5 linked regions of the Homo sapiens genome follow. The protein of the gene in region 1 purifies or fractionates together with the protein of each later gene. This does not show direct contact. Each region holds a gene or a part of one and is shown in the gene's direction. Other genes may lie near its edges. The genes, in order: RIC1, RIC3, S1PR3, PACC1 and EFNB2.

The links.
Region 2: the proteins of RIC1 (region 1) and RIC3 purify together in Homo sapiens (co-immunoprecipitation; one large-scale study listed by IntAct). This does not show direct contact.
Region 3: the proteins of RIC1 (region 1) and S1PR3 purify together in Homo sapiens (co-immunoprecipitation; one large-scale study listed by IntAct). This does not show direct contact.
Region 4: the proteins of RIC1 (region 1) and PACC1 purify together in Homo sapiens (co-immunoprecipitation; one large-scale study listed by IntAct). This does not show direct contact.
Region 5: the proteins of RIC1 (region 1) and EFNB2 purify together in Homo sapiens (co-immunoprecipitation; one large-scale study listed by IntAct). This does not show direct contact.

What each region holds. Positions count from the first base shown.
Region 1 is NC_000009.12:5,771,577-5,774,922, forward strand, and holds part of RIC1 (guanine nucleotide exchange factor subunit RIC1), read left to right. Parts: intron 1-987; coding exon 988-1,165; intron 1,166-1,315; coding exon 1,316-1,504; intron 1,505-2,381; coding exon 2,382-2,670; 3' UTR 2,671-3,346. UniProt on the Homo sapiens protein: The RIC1-RGP1 complex acts as a guanine nucleotide exchange factor (GEF), which activates RAB6A by exchanging bound GDP for free GTP, and may thereby be required for efficient fusion of endosome-derived vesicles with the Golgi compartment.
Region 2 is NC_000011.10:8,107,553-8,110,658, reverse strand, and holds part of RIC3 (protein RIC-3 isoform a precursor), read left to right. Parts: 3' UTR 1-3,106. UniProt on the Homo sapiens protein: Molecular chaperone which facilitates proper subunit assembly and surface trafficking of alpha-7 (CHRNA7) and alpha-8 (CHRNA8) nicotinic acetylcholine receptors.
Region 3 is NC_000009.12:88,989,607-88,994,566, forward strand, and holds the start of S1PR3 (sphingosine 1-phosphate receptor 3), read left to right. Parts: upstream 1-1,861; 5' UTR 1,862-2,089; intron 2,090-2,245; exon of another isoform or gene 2,246-4,960. UniProt on the Homo sapiens protein: Receptor for the lysosphingolipid sphingosine 1-phosphate (S1P). S1P is a bioactive lysophospholipid that elicits diverse physiological effect on most types of cells and tissues.
Region 4 is NC_000001.11:212,383,645-212,388,015, reverse strand, and holds part of PACC1 (proton-activated chloride channel), read left to right. Parts: intron 1-915; coding exon 916-1,125; intron 1,126-2,590; coding exon 2,591-2,742; intron 2,743-4,371. UniProt on the Homo sapiens protein: Chloride channel gated by pH that facilitates the entry of chloride ions into cells upon exposure to extracellular acidic pH. Involved in acidosis-induced cell death by mediating chloride influx and subsequent cell swelling.
Region 5 is NC_000013.11:106,490,222-106,494,592, reverse strand, and holds part of EFNB2 (ephrin-B2 isoform 1 precursor), read left to right. Parts: intron 1-1,164; coding exon 1,165-1,553; 3' UTR 1,554-4,371. UniProt on the Homo sapiens protein: Cell surface transmembrane ligand for Eph receptors, a family of receptor tyrosine kinases which are crucial for migration, repulsion and adhesion during neuronal, vascular and epithelial development.

The sequences.
Region 1 (3,346 bases):
CATTTTTTTTGAGGAATCGCCATGTTTCCCATAGCAACTGCACCATTTTAAATTATCAGCAGTGGACAAGGGTTCTATTTTCTCCACATCTCACCAACACTCACTTTCAGTTTTTTGATAGTAGTCATCCTAATGGGTGTGAGATGGTGCCATCACTTTAGAAAACTTTTTTCAAGAGATAATTTCAAATATATTAAAAAGTACAGTTAATAATATAGTGGGTTCTCCTCCCTCCCCCATGTGGCCGTCACTCAGCTTACATCACTAATGGCCACATATGTTTGTTGTACCTCCCCACTCTTGTATTAACTGAAGAAAATCCATGACATATTATCTATAAATATTTCAGTTTTTTTCCTACAAGGACTCTTTAAGAATTATGACCAAAATACCATTATCATCCCTATAAAAATTTGATAATTCCTTGGTACCATCAAATATCCATTAAGTATTCAGATTTCTAATTGTTTCATAGACATCATAATTTTGTATAGGTTAAGATTTAAATAAGGTTCACATATTGTGATTGTGTTCTTAATTCTCTTTTTAAGTGGATGTTCCCCCACCCTCTCCTTTTCCCTTCCTTGCAGTTTATTCATGGAAGAAATTTGGTTTTGTGGATTTTCTCACAATAATGATTTTGCTTATTACATCTCCATGGTTTAGTTTAACAGTTTCCTCTATTTCCTGTAGTAGCTGAATGTAAAGACTTGGTCAAACTCTAGCTAGATTTTATTGAGGGAGTTGGGGAAGACTGCTTCATAGGTGGTGGTAGTATATTTTTCCATCTAAAGGTACATAATGTCGGTTATCTAATTCTTTCTTTAAATGTTTTCTATGTTCACATGGTAATTTTAGCCATGGATTTCATGTTTTAGTTTCAAGATCCTGAGAAATCAACATCTGAGGAACAGCTAATATTTAAAATTAAAGGAAAATATATTTTCTCCACGAAGTTGGTTGTAACTTTTGGCAATTCTTCATCAGGTGATGAATGCAGTATTGGTTCAGCCACAGACTTGACTGAAAGTAGCTCCATGGTGGATGGCGACTGGACAATGGTGGATGAAAATTTCTCTACACTCAGTTTAACTCAGTCAGAGCTGGAGCACATTTCCATGGAGTTGGCCAGTAAAGGGCCTCATAAATCCCAGGTCCAGCTTCGGTGAGTTTCTTGGCTATTTGAAATCACAGAATGCCTACTCAGAGTATTTGGGCAAATAGGTATGGGGCTACTCTCCTAATAATCATTGCACTTCTGTACATCTTATAGATCTTTCTTAGCATAAATCATTTTGTTTCTGCTTATATTTAGGTATTTGCTACACATTTTCATGGAGGCAGGGTGCCTAGACTGGTGCATCGTTATAGGCCTGATTCTTAGAGAATCCTCAATAATCAATCAGATTTTGGTTATTACACAGTCTTCAGAGGTAGATGGAGAGATGTTACAGAACATAAAGACAGGGCTCCATGCAGTGGACCGATGGGCCTCTACAGACTGGTAAGTGCTGCTTTCCTTAGGCTTGGTGTCCTTCCATGTCTTTTGGTGAATCCTGTCCTTTCACATTAAGGCCTAGTTATGGTTCATGTGTTACATTTTATTTATTTATTATATATTATTTATTATATGTTCATTTTTAAGCTACTTTCTTTAGTAATCATTCTATACCCAGCTATTTAAATGGATAATTCCATCGAGTAAGGTTACACTGTTGGTCAGTGTATAATTTATAGTGTGAATGTATATCACTGACTTAAGATTGATGCAGTGCAAATGAGCTTAGAATTAGACTGGAACTTCAGATTTGCATCCCTGTGAAATTGAAAGCAATGGTCTACAAATATCTACTTGAAAAGATTCAAACTTAAGGTCCATGTGAATTTAACATTCCATGGCAGTTACAAGCAAATCCAAATTAGAGTTGTGGTTGCAGTTAAGAGCCTTGGACTCTAGCCCTGTCTTTATTACCAGTTAATGTGTGTATTTGGAGCTAGTTACTTCCCTTACTTGGATCTGGTTTTCCTTAATTGGCAAATGCATTTAGGTTAAATGTTGTCTGAAGGTCCTTTTTCAAGTCTAAGCTCCTGTTGGCCTTTCAATTGTAAAATATAATTTTTAGTTGTAATACTGGTTCTAAAACATCAGCCTTTGCCCCTAATGCTTAGAAACTTAAGCCTCAGGCTTATGCAATGTGCAGCCCCCTCTGCTGGGCAGGACAGCCAAGAAGCCTTTCCTCCCTACCTTCTTTGCCTCCTCTCTCCCCTCCTAATCTATCGTCGTCTTTACCATATCAATGTTCAGTAGAAGTTCACCCGTAATGTTCTACCAAACCTTTTGAATTATGGCAGATGAGCTAATGTTTTTTTTCTCTACATAGTCCTGGATATAAGCCATTTTTAAACATCATTAAGCCACAACTGCAGAAGCTCAGTGAGATAACAGAAGAGCAGGTCCAGCCAGATGCCTTCCAACCAATAACTATGGGTAAGACTCCAGAACAGACTAGCCCCCGGGCAGAGGAGAGCAGGGGCTCCTCCAGCCATGGAAGCATCCCCCAGGGTGAAGTTGGAAGCAGCAATATGGTCAGCCGGAAAGAGGAGGACACAGCCCAAGCAGAGGAGGAAGAACCTTTTCAGGATGGGACTTACGACTGTTCTGTGTCCTAACAGTGAGGTTCCATCACAAAGGGGCAGTATTAATTAGCAGCAGCGTGCAGCTCAGTACGTTGTAACATAGTTGGATGATTTAACAGGAGAACTCAGTTCAGAGACTCTTCGGTAAGTATTAGTAGATTTTAACTAATTCTTTCTTGTCTAAGAAATCTTTTTGACTCCATAAAAATGTGATATAAAGCATCTTTCATAAAAAAATTTTAAGCTGCAGTGAAAAGTAAATATTGTACAGATGTACATGAGAATATTTTGGTTTTACTCAAAGGTTGGTAGCTCTTAAACCACAGGAATTGTTTTGCCCCAGGTGAGCTTACTTTTTCACTACTTACATCTTCTCACATTTCCCGGTTCTGCATTATGTCCAGATTGCTTTTTAAAAAATAAATGCTAAGGTGCTTGCTATAGTCTGTCAGGTACTTGAGCTACCTGTTTGCTCCCTTGGATACAGCTGGACTCTTTAATCAGTCCTCCTGAATAGATTGCTACCCTGGGGCACAATATGTGCCAGTGTGATGGAAACATTCTCCTTGGCTTTACTAGCCAGTCAAATCCCAGTCCAGAATTGATGGAAGCTATTTACCTGTGAGTTAATGTGCTTGTTTTAGCAAGCTTGATTCCCATTAGACCAATGTGGGCAGAGGTCTGAGGGGGTTCTTCTCAATTTTGCTGT
Region 2 (3,106 bases), on another chromosome or scaffold:
GTGACCTCTCTCTCCTCAGATTTCCTTCTTGGCCCTGTGCCCTGCACTTTCTTCACTGTGTTCAAGTGTCATAGCTATCAGGCCACTATCATGGATATCATGTATCCTTCCTGGTGCTCACACACCTGTCACCTTGTAAAACACGGACATTAGTGTGAACACAGGACAGCTTCGCTCTTTCTCTTCCTGCCTTTCCTCTATCAGAGAAGTTGATCCATTAAGTAATTATGTTTGGTCTATTGTAATTACAGATGGGACCACTCAGGGGCAAAGGTCTGACTCTTCCTGGTAGGTGTAACAGATAGTTCACCTGTGAACGAACATCAGCTTACAGATGATGAGGACTTAAGGTTGCAAGAATGAAGATTTCAGACTCCAAGATCCCTTATTCTTTGGGCCTTGAGCAGGTTAGTAGTCCCCTGGTGAGAAGAGAACATTTTGTTTGTGGGGCTAATGGGCCCAGAGGAGGGTAAGACTCTGCTGTCTAAGCTGAAGCCTCTTCCTCGCAGCGAGGGTCTTCCTAGGAACATTGATGCTGCCTCAGACATCCTCTTTTCTCCAGAGTAGGGAAGACTCCCACTGATCTGAGAATGAGCCCAGAGGCTTGTTTGGGGACTGTTTTACTCTGATACTACCTGGATATCTAGCTTCCTTTACCCCTGTTCTGCTTAACAGAACTGCCAAGCCCAGAAGTACCTTTGCACTCCTGGTTTTCAGTGGACAGAGGAAGCTTTAGATAGAGACTTTAGACCCTGCCCTGCAGAGTCAAGACTTGAGGCCATTGAAGCTGCAGGAAGCCCTGCCCAGGGATGGTCCTGCCATGAGGAGGCTGCAACCCTATAAGAGGGCTCAAGATTGTGAATTCTGCTCCTGCCATGAGGAGCTCAGAAGGCCAGGAAGCCAGCAATAGGGGAGAGAATCTGTGTGCTTATGGACAGTCCTTACCTAAAGCTGTTTCTGAATGTTGCACCCTTTGAGAAATTTCTTCTCAGAACCATAAATTGAAACAAATGAGGACTGATCTTGTATACAAAGTGCCAACTCAAGAGGGAAGTTGGAGTATGTCTGTTGCAGAGAACCAATATAGCAGTGCCCAGGGGTAGAGACCATGTGTTCCATACTCGGATATTTGGGTCTTTTTGAGAGAGCTGGGGAAAGTAGCAGCAACTAGATTAAGACTGGGAGGATTTTGACCAAACTAAAGGCCTTTTCTCCTTACTGCATCTGACGTGTGTCTTCTTGAGACAAGATAGCACCCATGAATTACATCATGAGGTATGTGTGAATTCAGTTTACATGTAAGACCTGAGAGTTCGAAGAGGGCACATTCCCAAAGACATTCCCAGTCATGAAATGTAGAAGACTGGAAAATTAAGACATTATGTAAAGGTAGATATGGCTTTTAGAGTTACATTATGCTTGGCATGAATAAGGTGCCAGGAAAACAGTTTAAAATTATACATCAGCATACAGACTGCTGTTAGAAGGTATGGGATCATATTAAGATAATCTGTCAGCTACTACTAGGCATTTATTGTTAATTGAGTTACAGAAAGTCATTCAAGACTGAGTTTATAGAAAGCATATTGCATCTATCTCTGTGTAGAACATTTGATTCACATTGTGAAGAATGCAGTTTAAAATATACTGAATGCAATCTAGATGTATTGTACACGAAAGGTGAAAAATAACAGGTGCTCTTTACTGTTTAGATAAATTGTTTTCTGTGTTATTTCCCTTCGTTCACTGTGAGGGGTTGATTCATGAGGAGAGCCCTGGGTTCCTGGCTCAGGTTTACTTTTGGCCTTAGGATAGGATTCCCTTATTAGAGATAAATACTGCTGTTCTCTTCTAGCTCATTCATTCATTTAGCAGTCAATTGCTCAGTGCCAGGTGCTAGGAACAGAGGCTCAATCTCTACCCTCAGAAAACTCAGTGTGACGAGAGAGAGCCTGACAGATAAAATGAACTATGACCCTGTAAGAGGGCTCAGGATCGTGAATCCTGCAGGCAGAGAAACATGAGCCATAATCTGTCCCTGCATTTTCTAGCTGTGGAATCTTGGGTCAGCTCCTTAACTGGTCTGAGCTTTGGCTTCAGGGTAGTAAAGGGAGGGGTATTAAAGGTCCTGGTTAAATGAAATCATCAGTGTGTGTAAAACAGCATTGGTTCTAGCTCATACATGATAACCACTCATTAAGTGGTAATTATGTTTTTATTATAAGGGCTATGCTGTAATTCAGACATGGGCCCAAAACTACAGGAAAGATAAATTGTTTTTGCTAAAGTATTGCCAAGAAACTTCACAGTTTCTTGGGAGGTGGGCCTTGAGGCATGCAAAGAACTTCTTCAGGTAGGCAAAGAAGAGAGGACACTCTTGGCAGAAAGAGTTGTTGAAAAAAGCAGTAGGGTGTGAAAATACATGGATGTTCAAGTATTTTGGTGAGGCTGTTATGTAAAGTGTTGTTGGTCTTTGGGGAAAATTGGCTTATGGAAATTCCTGCCAGAAGTACTAAGCCCTTATGGTGGTTCTTCCTGCCCTAGCTCTTGGTTGGTTTATATATAAGGAATATATTTGTGTATTTATATATCAGACATTTGGATGTACCTTTCAGTTATTTAGGATTTAGAAAATTCTTTTTGGATTTTCCAGAATTATTTTATCCTTCGGGGATGACAGTTATATGTGTATATACAACCCAGGATGACAAAATCATGGGTCCGGTTTTTGTTGCCAGGGCTGCTGTCTCTTTTCTTGCGGTCTTCATTTCTCACGAGGGTGCTGGGAACTTGATCAGTCCCCTGGCCTTTTGGCACTGTGGCAGAGTACACAAGTCATACCTTTATGGACAGTTAGCTCACAAAACAACTGCATAATCTGGGATCACTCTTGGTAAATCAGGTGGGTGGTGCAGCCAGGAGATCCCCTTTCCTGGTCACAACAGGAGCACAAAGAAACCATTATCTCCATGACTAGCTCCAGAAGCTGGGCCCAGGGAGTCGTGATGAGGAGTGGAGGTGTATTTGGCCTGTAGAATCAACGGCCTTTGAGAACCATACAATGCACCTTATATGGCTTGGGTGATCAAATAACTTAAGGTCCAAA
Region 3 (4,960 bases), about 83 Mb from region 1:
GGGTCTCTCTTAGGGAAACCTGCCATAAAGCATGAGAGCCACATTACTCCTCAGGGCTTCTGGGCTCCGATTCCGCAGACTAGTTTTGGAGGCATCACCACGCCTCAAGGTTGCTCTGTTATATCAGGGTAACTGACTTTCTCTAGGAACGGAGACTTGGGTGCCCCTTAAAACAACCCTCAGCCAGTATCCTAGCAGTAAATTTTTCATCACGGGAAGCAACTAATTGAACAGAGGTGTGATGAACCTACTGACCACTTTGGTAATATAGACACAGTGGCCACAGTATGCTGTATTGTTATCCTGGTTGTGACCAATGCCAAAGGAGCATGTTTCCTTCTTTTCTTGACTTGATGCTGTAGGAGTCCAACAAAGGGAAGCACATTCAGGCCCACATGAAACTTGGGACAGAAGTGGCTTCTCAGAGCCGTGCACCAGGCACTTTGAACAAGTTGGAAGGCTACAGTGCCGGAAGACTCCACAGTAGCACAGGCGAAGTGGCTTAGGCGAAAACGCTGGGAAGTACCCCAGCTCCCGGGGGCCAGAGCCTCTAGGGCTGGCAGCCTCAGCAGGCAGAGTCACTTGCCTCCTTCAGCTCAATTGCTGAGGGCTTGCGTTTCTCTGCAGGGAACAGGAGTGCCGCCGACTTCCACTCTTGGTGCCCTTCACCGCTCAAACTGCACCCCAAATAAGCGTATGCACCCTGCTCCAAGAGAAGGATGCGCTGGGCTGATCCTCTGGAGGCAAGAGGGCAAAAGACAGAAAGTAACGAGCGGCCTTTGCACAAACTCAACTCTCTGCAGCGGCCCCTGCGGCCCAATCCTGCCGGCCCAGGAATGCACGGTCGGATAACAGGCCTCTCCTTGCTTTTTCGTCTTCTTCCTCCCGCTTCTCTCCTCTCTCCTTTTCCTCCTCCTCCTTTTTCTTTAATTTTCTCCTTTCTCCCCAAGCTTCTACAGTTGTTTCTGTGTTCGCTCAATCATGGCCTTTGGCATTGATTGAAAATTTGGCAGTTCCTTCTCTCGGAATTCTGTTTGAAGCCTTCATATGGATTTATTATTATTATTATTATTTTTGCCACACAAAAGGGGCAAATCCGCGTGAGGAAGGGGGTCGCATGGGGGTCGGCTGAGATCTGCTGGCTGCCGGTCTAGGAGGGGCGCTGCTCTGTGCCGGAGTGGGCTCTGGTGCACCAGCAGAGGCTGGGGGAGAGTGCTGCCCCCGCCTGGAGCCCAAGTCTCTGCGTGCCTGGGGGTAGAGCGCGGAGAGGGACCAGGCAGGCGCCGGAGGGGACCCGCGCGGAAAAGGAAGAAGCCCAAACAAAAACGCTGTCCGGCGCCAGGCGCCCACCTGCAAGCCCAAGCCGGTGCTCGGCCAGTTACAAAAGAAATGGTCAGGATCTGGACAACGATAATGATAGTATTAATCCTCCTATTAAGAATCGGCCCAAACAAACCCTCGCTGTCAGGGCGACAGGCGCCCGCCCAAGCCCAGACCTCGGACCTGGTTCCAAGCCTGTTCCCGCTGGGTCTCTGGGCGCCCGGTTTCTGCACCTGGAGCTCGCCCGATGAGGACAAGGTCTGGAGGCCGGCCTGGGAACAGGGGCCGAAGGGCGAGCCGGACCCTAGGGGATTGGTAGGGTCGGGGAGAAGGGGTCCAGGCTAGGGGCGGGCGGGGCGCACGGAGACCAGGCGGCTTGAGCGGGAGGTGGGGAGCTGGAGGAGTGCCGGGTTCGCGGGCGGGGGACGGGGAGAGGGGGGCGGGGAGAGGGGCGGGAGTCGGGGGCGGCGAGGGGAGGGGCGGAGCGCGGGTCCCGCCCCGGCGGGCCGCTGGAAAAGTTTAGTCTCTGACTCGCTCGGGCAGAGGCCGAGGAAGCCGGTTCCGGGGACGGGCAACAGGGACTCAGGGACCAGAAGGCGGCTGCAGGACGCGACCGAGCAGGACCCCAGGCCCGGGAACGACGTCGCGAGCGCTGAGACTGCCGGGCCTCCCAGCCCATCTGGCATTCGAGCGCAGGACCGGGCGCCCCGGCACCGCCGCGCGCCACCCGCTAGGATGCCGGTGGCCCCAGCGCCCTCAGCCGACGGAGGTGAGAGGCGGGCCCGGGCGGGGCGCGGAACCAGGGTGGGGGGCTGGGGGCCGAAGGACCCACCTTTCCAACAAAATCCCCACCGATCCCGGGCGCGACGGGGACTTGGGCGCGCCACGGCGGCCGGAGCGCTCCACATCAGCACCCCTCCCCCAGAGCCGCTGCAGGAACAGGGAGGAGGCCTTTTCCACCGCACCCGGAGCGTTTACAACGGGCTGGAGCTGAATACCTGGATGAAAGTGGAGAGGCTGTTCGTGGAGAAGTTCCATCAGTCGTTTTCCTTGGACAATTAACAAGTTAGGCTTCCACAGTGCCAGGGCCTGGGGATGCTGGACGTGGGAGAGGGTTGTGGTCGTTAGCCTGGGAAAATCATTCTTTTAAACAATATTCGCCGGAAAATTAGTTTTTTCCTAACATTTCTCAAACAAGGCAATTAGGGCCGTCAGAATCGGTGCTGGAAGACGAAGTCCCCACAGTGCAATAATGAGGTTCCCACGGAAAATCAGTACGTTGTGTTCGTAACTGAGATAACAGCTAGAGAAGGGGCTTTGGGCTTTTTGAGTCTCCCAATAGTCAGTCTCTCTCTCTCTCTCTCTCTCTCTCTTCCTCTGACTTTCTGGCTTTGGACACTCCCAATGGTATATTTCTTTGTGGTGTTTTTATATTTGGATATAAGAGAGGAACTTCTTGTTGGATTTTTAAGGGAACACACTTCGTTTTGACCCTTCCAATAAGGAAAGGGGAGCTACAGGAACAGAGAGCTCTTTAGAAGGTTACTTTTAAATGGAGGCCCCCCCATTCATGGTACCCACTCCCACTTGGACCTCTGAGACCTCCAGAATTAGGCATCATTCTAAAATCTGGACATTAGAAGTCACAGACTTTGTATATAACCACATATTCATAATTTATCTTTTCAATGTTTTTTATTCATAGATGAAAATCTTGCAGGCATAGTTAAGAAAAATATAATTCCTAGAAAGTACAAGGGAAGGATTATGCTCTGCAGATACATGACTAACAAGGATAGCTGGCCATGCCCAGGGCTGGTGTTGGTTGAGGAGGTGGTGATGGTGCGGGGCATGTGTGTGTGTGTGTGTGTGTGCGCTTGAGGAGTTGTGGAAGTGTTCATATCTGTAAAGTATTATTTCATGGATGCAGACCTTAATGCTAGGTTGAATAACTTTGTTGCCATAGAAGAAGAACCGCACGTCAGGCTTTTTTCATTAGCAAACCAGTAAGCACTCACTTTGGGCCTCTGAAATCACTTCCATCACCTAACACCAGAGATACAAACTGAAGCTAGCCCTTAAGAGCCTCCCCCTAAGATTTAGAGAGAATGATTTCTCAACCAGTTTTCATCTTTGAAAGTGCCATTTCTCCCTTTATCATTGTGATTTTTATTCAAATGCATGAGTCTCTGATTTTCTACCATATACAAAGGGTAGAGACTACAGTTTCCTATAGAAGAAACTTCACATAGTGGCCGAAGGATCTTATTTCTCAAAATTCAGGAACTGGTTTCCTCTTTCTGGAAATTATGACATTAACTTGATTTCATGGTATCTCTTTCATCTTCCTCAATGCCTGTGCTGTATGTATATTTTTATTATATACTGTAGGTATATTTTTATTACCAAAAAAAGGAGAATTTGAGCATGCCACAATCTTGAAAAATCTGAGGTTGCCCTGCTGTAGAACCCTTTAACTGCCAGGACTTTGTACTGTTTCCCAAGTGTTACCAGAGCCAGGCCGCCAGCCTTATGCAGTCTGTTTACCTTAGCTGGAACCAGGGTGCTGTGCTGTGGGTTCTATGAAACTTTCTGTTTCTTCATATTTGGCTTTGTAATTCCTTTCTTATCAGTTTTGGAGGCATTTCCTATTATTCCTCTGCCATATGTTTTCTGCCAAATTAATTGCCTTAAGATTTTCCTTAAGCTTTTGGAAATGTATAATGTTTGAGAAAAAAGAAAAAGAATAGACTGAGTGGAATCGTATCTAGTTTCAGTTAATAACATGTTTCAGTTGATGTTACTGTTATAGCTACTGGGCATAAAGTCTCCTTCCCTTTTTTGAATCCTATTTTTGAGGCATTGAAGCTGTGTCTGTAAGAGACAATAGGCCAGTTGGGTTAAATCAGTGACGAGATTGTCCAGTGCAGATTGGTGCCCAGTGAGTGGATCTTCACTGCTCACAGGCCGGACTGGGGTCAGCTCACACAGCGAGGTGACGGTCCGCTCCTCAAGCAGTGGATGGTGCTCTTCGGCCTTGCAGATGCCGCTCCATTTTCCTGGCTTCAAAATTTTCCAGATATTTCAGTGCCCCCAGAATGACATGCTAACATTCTGCTGGCATGGGAGCATGAGGCAGTTTGTCTCTAAAACATGCCAGAGAATCTCTTGTCACTACCTAGGCAAAGAACCAGTGGCAAGGTGGCAGCCTCCCAAAGAGCTCATCCCTAATGTGACATCCTGGAATCAGATGGCACGGACACCGGCCCAGCCCCTTCCCAGCTCTGTGACTAAGGACAAGTGACACCCCCCCTCCCCCAGCCTCGGTCTCCTCCTGTGTACATTCAGAAGGCAGATGCTGCCATGAGGCCATGTGTGCTATGTCCATGGTGCAAGGTGGCACGCATGCCGAGTCACCAGGTGAGACTGCCGCTTTGGGAAGGGATAGGAAGGATCTCCGGTAGCCTTCGTGGGCAGGATGCCTCTTATTTGAATGTGCCTTTAGCCACCTCACAGAGCCTATTTCCACATCCCTGTGGATTCATCCCTGTGGAAATCTTGAGAATCATTTATCCTATGCTGTCATGAAGCAGCAGCAGAATGGAGAAGGTTTAAAAAGACTCATGGACAGGCAAAGCGG
Region 4 (4,371 bases), on another chromosome or scaffold:
ATGGAGTAATCTCGGCTCACTGCAACCTCCGCCTCCTGGGTTCAAGCAATTCTCCTGCCTCAGCCTCTTGAGTAGCTGGGATTACAGGCATGCGCCACCACGCCCAGCTAATTTTGTATTTTTAGTAGAGACAGGGGTTTCACCATGTTGGTCAGGCTGGTCTCGAACTCCCGACCTCAGGTGATCCTCCTGCCTCGGCCTCCCAAAGTGCTGGGATTACAGGCTTGAGCCACTGCGCCTGGCCAAGAAAATGTCTTTCTAAATTAAAATGCTTCCATGGAAGGATGGCGTGACCAAGCTACTCTGTCACTGTTGGAAGCCAGATGCCAAGCAAAAAGCTTTCGGGGCTTAGGATGAGTGAAGCATCAGCTGTGGAAGAAAAGAAAATCAAGCAGAGGGAATGGTAAGTGTGAGGGAATCCCGGGTTGAGAAGGGCACTCCAGAAGAACAGAAAGTCGATGAGTAGAGGTGGAGCTAGAGCTGGGAGAACTGGGGAAGTGGAGCAGTGAGGGATAAGGCCAGAGAGGTAGGTTGGGGCCAGCTCACTTGTTGGATTGTAACTGCCTATCCCTCTAGAGAGTAAACTCCTTTTTTCTGTTCTTTTTGTTTGTTTTTTGCTTTTTCTTTTAACATTTTTATCGTTTTTTATCTTTTATCTTTTTTCTTTTGAGAGTAAACTCCTTAAAGACAATGAATAAGTCTCCTTCAGCTTGGTGTCCTCTACCTGGCAGAGAAGCTGTGTAGTAAATGTTTACAGGTGCCCTTTGTTATGATTTGTGGGGTGAGGTGGAAAGGTTGGGCGTGCAGGTGACTTCACCTCCTTGGTGAGGCAGGCAAGGGCCTGGAGGTTGCTGGCCATCTCTGTCTGTACCTTGTCCCTGTGCCCTGGGTCACATGGTGTTTTGTTGTTGTCAGGCCTGGACAGCGAGTCCGCCTCCAGCAGCATCCGCTTCAGCAAGGCCTGCCTGAAGAACGTCTTCTCGGTCCTACTCATCTTCATCTACCTGCTGCTCATGGCTGTGGCCGTCTTCCTGGTCTACCGGACCATCACAGACTTTCGTGAGAAACTCAAGCACCCTGTCATGTCTGTGTCTTACAAGGAAGTGGATCGCTATGATGCCCCAGGTAGAGCCTGCCCCTGGGCCAGGCATCAGGGCCCCAGATCTAGGGTGTCAGCTGGCAGATACTCCCTGAGCTGCCGTTGTATTTGTGGTACTACGGGCAGGGCAGAGGAGTCCAACCAAGCATAGTCTAGGTATAGAGTCTATGCCCAAGGAGCTGCTGTTGGGAGTGTGTTACGTGCTGAGGACAGAAATGGACAGAGCCTGGAGCAGCTACTGCAGGCTACTAGAGGGGTCAGGGAAAGCTTGGCAGAGAGGTAGGATTTGAGATGGGCCTCGAAAAGCACATAGATGGGAAGAGAGTGTCTTTGGGATGGGGATCAGCAGAGCGAAGGGGTGTCTAGGGAGGCAGAGGGCTTCTCTGGAGAGGATGAGACTAACTTGGCTGGGGCCAGAGGGCAGGGATGAGGAGAAGCAGGAGTCAAGGCTGGACTGTGGGGTGGGGAGGATGGCAGGGGAGGCGAGGCCATTCAACCCTGCCTGGAGAGGGACTCCCAGGCCACACTGGGTATACCTGTCTCACTGGGGTGTCTGGTCCCTGAGTGGGGAGTCCACTCTGCTATAGAGCAAGCTATCTGCTCTGGGCTGCAGGGCTGGCACTGGATGTTCTAGGGGCTGTAGAGTAAATGAGGAGGCATGAGCTGTGTGACTTGGGCCCTGTCCACCCAGTGTGTGCCACCTGTTCTGCCCACAGATGCCCCTGAGTAACCTGTGGGAGGGCCTGCTCACATGGCAGAGCCAGAGTCCGGGTGCCCTCTCTCTGGGGCTTCCTGCCAGCCTCCAGCAGAGTCAGGTGTGCTGGTCATGGCTCCTCTGCCCATCTCTTCCTGTCTTGTGTTTGTCCCTCTTCTCTGTGTGTCTGCTTGAGTCTTCTTTATCTGTACGTTTTACTTTCTCTGTCTGGTGTCTTAGTGTCTCTGAAGTCTGTCTGTCTCTGATGCCATGTGCTGCTGTCTTAGCATTGCTGCCCTTGAGGCTGGACAGCTACTGTCAGTAGAGGTGCCTGGGCTGGGAAGAGGGAGGGACTCTTGGGATGTGACTTGCACACTTGGGGCTCCCAGTCTAAGAGACAAAATGAGTTCTGAGGAGTTCCACAGTTTAGAGCCTCCCAGTGATTCTGCAGGTGGGTGTTGGCCCAGAGGGGTGGCACAGGGGCTGAGTCAAGAGACACTCCTTCGGAGGGTGTGGAGCGGGGCTCTGAGGTGGAGTGGGTTTTGATGTGGGCATCAGGGCGGCTGGATCCCAGGTTGGCCAGGGGCTTACTGAGGAGGGGCTTGTGCCCTCTGCTACAGCGGGGCTTTCTGAGGCCAGGGGATGTGGCTCCTCACCCTCTGAAACCCTTTTCTTCTCCCTTCCCTGCAGTCCTCCAGGGAGTCCAGAACGTAGGTTGTTGGTAGGTGTGAGATGATTTCAGGGATGTGGTCAGGAGTGTGATTTCTGACACTTGCTTTTCCTGTTTGTGCCCCCAGGTATTGCCTTGTACCCCGGTCAGGCCCAGTTGCTCAGCTGTAAGCACCATTACGAGGTCATTCCTCCTCTGACAAGCCCTGGCCAGCCGGGTGACATGAATTGCACCACCCAGAGGATCAACTACACGGACCCCTTCTCCAATCAGACTGTGGTAATTCCTGTCTGCCTGAGCTGGGTCTGGGCAGCTGCTCTGTTAGCCCCGCAACCCAAGGCCCCAAGTTTCCTTTTTCCTAGGAGTCCTTCTTCCACTCACTCAGTGTGGGGCCTTAGTCCCCAAGGAGACATGCGGCTGTGCCATGTGGACACTTGGCTGTGGTTGGCTCACTTGCATTCAGGGAGGACAGTGAGGCCTCCAGCCTTTGCTGAGTAATGCTCAGGGATTCCTGACAGTGCGGTGAGACCCTGTCCCCAATGGAAGAATGGCAGGGCTAAAGGGTGGGGCTGGTGCGATATAGCGAAGTGGGTCCCATACCTGACCACTTGACAGAATTGCCAGGATACTTTTTGAAAATATGAATTTCTAGGTTCCATGTGAAGCCAACTGAATTATAATTCCTTAGGTGGGGCCTGAGAATCCATAGTTTGAAATTAATACGCCAGCGTAAAGGAGCGTCGGTCTGGGGACAAGGACTCCTGGGCCCTGGGCTGGCCATGCTGTCGTGCACAACACAGCACGGCTGGGAAGGATGACTGAGGGATGGGGTTAGGAGCGCCCTGGAGGAGTGGCACTGCACAGGGTTTCAAAGACAGGGTAGGCGTTTTGTATTGATTTACATCTCATCTTTTTCATTTCATATTCTTGCTTCAGAAAGCATTGAAAGGGGCTACAATAGTTTTCCAGATGAAATTGGGAAGGAAAGGTTTTCTAGGCAGAGGAAATTGCACCATGACCTAAAGGGAAGAGACGACATGTTGTACTTGTGCCTCTGGGCACAATTGCAGTTGGTGGGGAAATGTTTCATAGGGTCAGGAGCCCTGGAAGACTGATGGGTGATGAAGCTGTGGACAGAGTAATGGCCAGATGAGAAAAGAACATGCATCGTGCTGTAGAGCCACACTTGCTCCCTTGGGTAACAGGGAACTGTTAGTGGGTTTTAAGATGAAAGAATAACACTAATTTTTTTTTTGTTAGTATGTGAACGCTAGGCCCCCTCCTAAAATCCTGCTAAAATGATTCTCTAAGGAATGAGATAGAACAGACTAGAACATCAATAATAGCTTTGCACGTGAAGAAAGGATATCACCAGTGGACCAGACATTTTGAGGAACTGGTATAAAGCATAAAAAACAGCTTGGGCCAGATTGGTGGAGCAAACAAATTAGAGCAAATCCCTAACCCAAAACAGATGAAGGAGAGACCTGTTGTAGAGGTACAAGCTTTCCTTCCAAACCCCCAGCTTGGAATCAGCACCGTTAGAGAGCAGGGTAGTCATTACTGGACTGCCTGTTGGCTGGGCCAGACACACCCTATACCCTCCCCAGGTATGCAGAGCCGCTGGGGATGGTTGCCTCTGGGTAAAAGACCCTGGAACCATTCTCTACAGAAGCGAAGGGAAGATGATTCTTTGTGTAGGCATAGGAAACAGAGCAGACTTCTACAATGGAAAAGGAGAGAGAACTAAAGGAAAGGACTCTTCCCAGAGTAAAACACACTGGAAAACTCAGTGTGCTTCCACAGAGCATACTTAGCTTTCCCATGCAAGGGAGAGGCCTATTAGAGAAACAGAAATTTACTACTTTGGAAGAAACCAAAACCCAGACCTATACTAGTCAACCTAAT
Region 5 (4,371 bases), on another chromosome or scaffold:
TCAAGCTGGTTGTCAACTCCAGCTTAAAGCTGATGTTAATGTATATGTAATTAATGTGCTAATCCCTCATCTAATTATATCTAAGCCACAGAGGGTTTAATTGATCCTCTTCTAAATTTTAAATGGTAACATTTTTAAATATTGCATAATAGTATTTTTTCAGGTGGTTATCGTTATTTTGTTTCACATTTTCCATGTAAAAGAAAATATTAAACAGGTCCCTGACAAAAGTGTAGAATACCAGATAAAATTGTCCGTCGTTGACCTTCGTTTTCTTAACAGTCTTGGAACAAATAGTTCTGTATTTGTTACCATGCTAATGAAGGTTTTATAGAGTAGCTGTTGAGCAGACATCAGCAGTTTTGTATTAGGATTGTTGTGTGCTTGCTTGGTCGTTGTGCAAATTTATCGTCTGCAGCAATATTCCATCCCTTTCCAAGAGTCAAGGAGGGAAGTTGTTATTTCTAACTTTCAATGACAAGATGTGTCAAATTCTTGTGACAAACTGATAAATGGATAATATAATGATGCCAGGCAGTTTTTTAGTGCTTAACATTTGGGCTGGCAGTCTGTTCGGTGTGAGAGTTTCTGCTGCCTTCCAAATATATTTTAAGTGTAAATCAAATAATACAGACGAGTTACGAGCTGAACATTTTCCCAGGCCCCCTCACTCCTTCCGCGTTCCCGAGCTGTTCTGTTCTGCCAGGAGGCAGGGCTCTTCTTTAGAAGGCAGGCCCTTTGAAGGTTTGCATGAAACTCCCTTTCTCAAAGGAGGCGGAAGAGCAATACCACATAAACGCTCACCGCTGACCTGGAGAATTGGCCACTTCCCTTTTTCTTCCCTGCCGCTGCCCCAGGCTGGCTGACACGGGTTAGAAGATGAAGCAAGATCAAGGGCTGGCTGTCACCGACAGTCTGTGCTCTTGCTGGATAATGATACAAAGGAAACCCTGTGGCTTGGGAGGGTAGGGAAGTCCCTCCTAGAGATACCTCTCATTTCCTTTTGCGTTGAGCTCTTAGACGAGGTATTGGCGAGGCAAAGTCCAGCTTCTAGTTAGTAATAAGCCTGGCTTATTTTTCACATTTTTAAGGGTCATAAAAGCAGTCCGTCTGCACTGGGACAGCAGTAACTATCTCTGACCTTTTCTGTCTCCGCGTCTGCAGGTTCTAGCACAGACGGCAACAGCGCCGGACATTCGGGGAACAACATCCTCGGTTCCGAAGTGGCCTTATTTGCAGGGATTGCTTCAGGATGCATCATCTTCATCGTCATCATCATCACGCTGGTGGTCCTCTTGCTGAAGTACCGGAGGAGACACAGGAAGCACTCGCCGCAGCACACGACCACGCTGTCGCTCAGCACACTGGCCACACCCAAGCGCAGCGGCAACAACAACGGCTCAGAGCCCAGTGACATTATCATCCCGCTAAGGACTGCGGACAGCGTCTTCTGCCCTCACTACGAGAAGGTCAGCGGGGACTACGGGCACCCGGTGTACATCGTCCAGGAGATGCCCCCGCAGAGCCCGGCGAACATTTACTACAAGGTCTGAGAGGGACCCTGGTGGTACCTGTGCTTTCCCAGAGGACACCTAATGTCCCGATGCCTCCCTTGAGGGTTTGAGAGCCCGCGTGCTGGAGAATTGACTGAAGCACAGCACCGGGGGAGAGGGACACTCCTCCTCGGAAGAGCCCGTCGCGCTGGACAGCTTACCTAGTCTTGTAGCATTCGGCCTTGGTGAACACACACGCTCCCTGGAAGCTGGAAGACTGTGCAGAAGACGCCCATTCGGACTGCTGTGCCGCGTCCCACGTCTCCTCCTCGAAGCCATGTGCTGCGGTCACTCAGGCCTCTGCAGAAGCCAAGGGAAGACAGTGGTTTGTGGACGAGAGGGCTGTGAGCATCCTGGCAGGTGCCCCAGGATGCCACGCCTGGAAGGGCCGGCTTCTGCCTGGGGTGCATTTCCCCCGCAGTGCATACCGGACTTGTCACACGGACCTCGGGCTAGTTAAGGTGTGCAAAGATCTCTAGAGTTTAGTCCTTACTGTCTCACTCGTTCTGTTACCCAGGGCTCTGCAGCACCTCACCTGAGACCTCCACTCCACATCTGCATCACTCATGGAACACTCATGTCTGGAGTCCCCTCCTCCAGCCGCTGGCAACAACAGCTTCAGTCCATGGGTAATCCGTTCATAGAAATTGTGTTTGCTAACAAGGTGCCCTTTAGCCAGATGCTAGGCTGTCTGCGAAGAAGGCTAGGAGTTCATAGAAGGGAGTGGGGCTGGGGAAAGGGCTGGCTGCAATTGCAGCTCACTGCTGCTGCCTCTGAAACAGAAAGTTGGAAAGGAAAAAAGAAAAAAGCAATTAGGTAGCACAGCACTTTGGTTTTGCTGAGATCGAAGAGGCCAGTAGGAGACACGACAGCACACACAGTGGATTCCAGTGCATGGGGAGGCACTCGCTGTTATCAAATAGCGATGTGCAGGAAGAAAAGCCCCTCTTCATTCCGGGGAACAAAGACGGGTATTGTTGGGAAAGGAACAGGCTTGGAGGGAAGGGAGAAAGTAGGCCGCTGATGATATATTCGGGCAGGACTGTTGTGGTACTGGCAATAAGATACACAGCTCCGAGCTGTAGGAGAGTCGGTCTGCTTTGGATGATTTTTTAAGCAGACTCAGCTGCTATACTTATCACATTTTATTAAACACAGGGAAAGCATTTAGGAGAATAGCAGAGAGCCAAATCTGACCTAAAAGTTGAAAAGCCAAAGGTCAAACAGGCTGTAATTCCATCATCATCGTTGTTATTAAAGAATCCTTATCTATAAAAGGTAGGTCAGATCCCCCTCCCCCCAGGTTCCTCCTTCCCCTCCCGATTGAGCCTTACGACACTTTGGTTTATGCGGTGCTGTCCGGGTGCCAGGGCTGCAGGGTCGGTACTGATGGAGGCTGCAGCGCCCGGTGCTCTGTGTCAAGGTGAAGCACATACGGCAGACCTCTTAGAGTCCTTAAGACGGAAGTAAATTATGATGTCCAGGGGGAGAAGGAAGATAGGACGTATTTATAATAGGTATATAGAACACAAGGGATATAAAATGAAAGATTTTTACTAATATATATTTTAAGGTTGCACACAGTACACACCAGAAGATGTGAAATTCATTTGTGGCAATTAAGTGGTCCCAATGCTCAGCGCTTAAAAAAACAAATTGGACAGCTACTTCTGGGAAAAACAACATCATTCCAAAAAGAACAATAATGAGAGCAAATGCAAAAATAACCAAGTCCTCCGAAGGCATCTCACGGAACCGTAGACTAGGAAGTACGAGCCCCACAGAGCAGGAAGCCGATGTGACTGCATCATATATTTAACAATGACAAGATGTTCCGGCGTTTATTTCTGCGTTGGGTTTTCCCTTGCCTTATGGGCTGAAGTGTTCTCTAGAATCCAGCAGGTCACACTGGGGGCTTCAGGTGACGATTTAGCTGTGGCTCCCTCCTCCTGTCCTCCCCCGCACCCCCTCCCTTCTGGGAAACAAGAAGAGTAAACAGGAAACCTACTTTTTATGTGCTATGCAAAATAGACATCTTTAACATAGTCCTGTTACTATGGTAACACTTTGCTTTCTGAATTGGAAGGGAAAAAAAATGTAGCGACAGCATTTTAAGGTTCTCAGACCTCCAGTGAGTACCTGCAAAAATGAGTTGTCACAGAAATTATGATCCTCTATTTCCTGAACCTGGAAATGATGTTGGTCCAAAGTGCGTGTGTGTATGTGTGAGTGGGTGCGTGGTATACATGTGTACATATATGTATAATATATATCTACAATATATATTATATATATCTATATCATATTTCTGTGGAGGGTTGCCATGGTAACCAGCCACAGTACATATGTAATTCTTTCCATCACCCCAACCTCTCCTTTCTGTGCATTCATGCAAGAGTTTCTTGTAAGCCATCAGAAGTTACTTTTAGGATGGGGGAGAGGGGCGAGAAGGGGAAAAATGGGAAATAGTCTGATTTTAATGAAATCAAATGTATGTATCATCAGTTGGCTACGTTTTGGTTCTATGCTAAACTGTGAAAAATCAGATGAATTGATAAAAGAGTTCCCTGCAACCAATTGAAAAGTGTTCTGTGCGTCTGTTTTGTGTCTGGTGCAGAATATGACAATCTACCAACTGTCCCTTTGTTTGAAGTTGGTTTAGCTTTGGAAAGTTACTGTAAATGCCTTGCTTGTATGATCGTCCCTGGTCACCCGACTTTGGAATTTGCACCATCATGTTTCAGTGAAGATGCTGTAAATAGGTTCAGATTTTACTGTCTATGGATTTGGGGTGTTACAGTAGCCTTATTCACCTTTT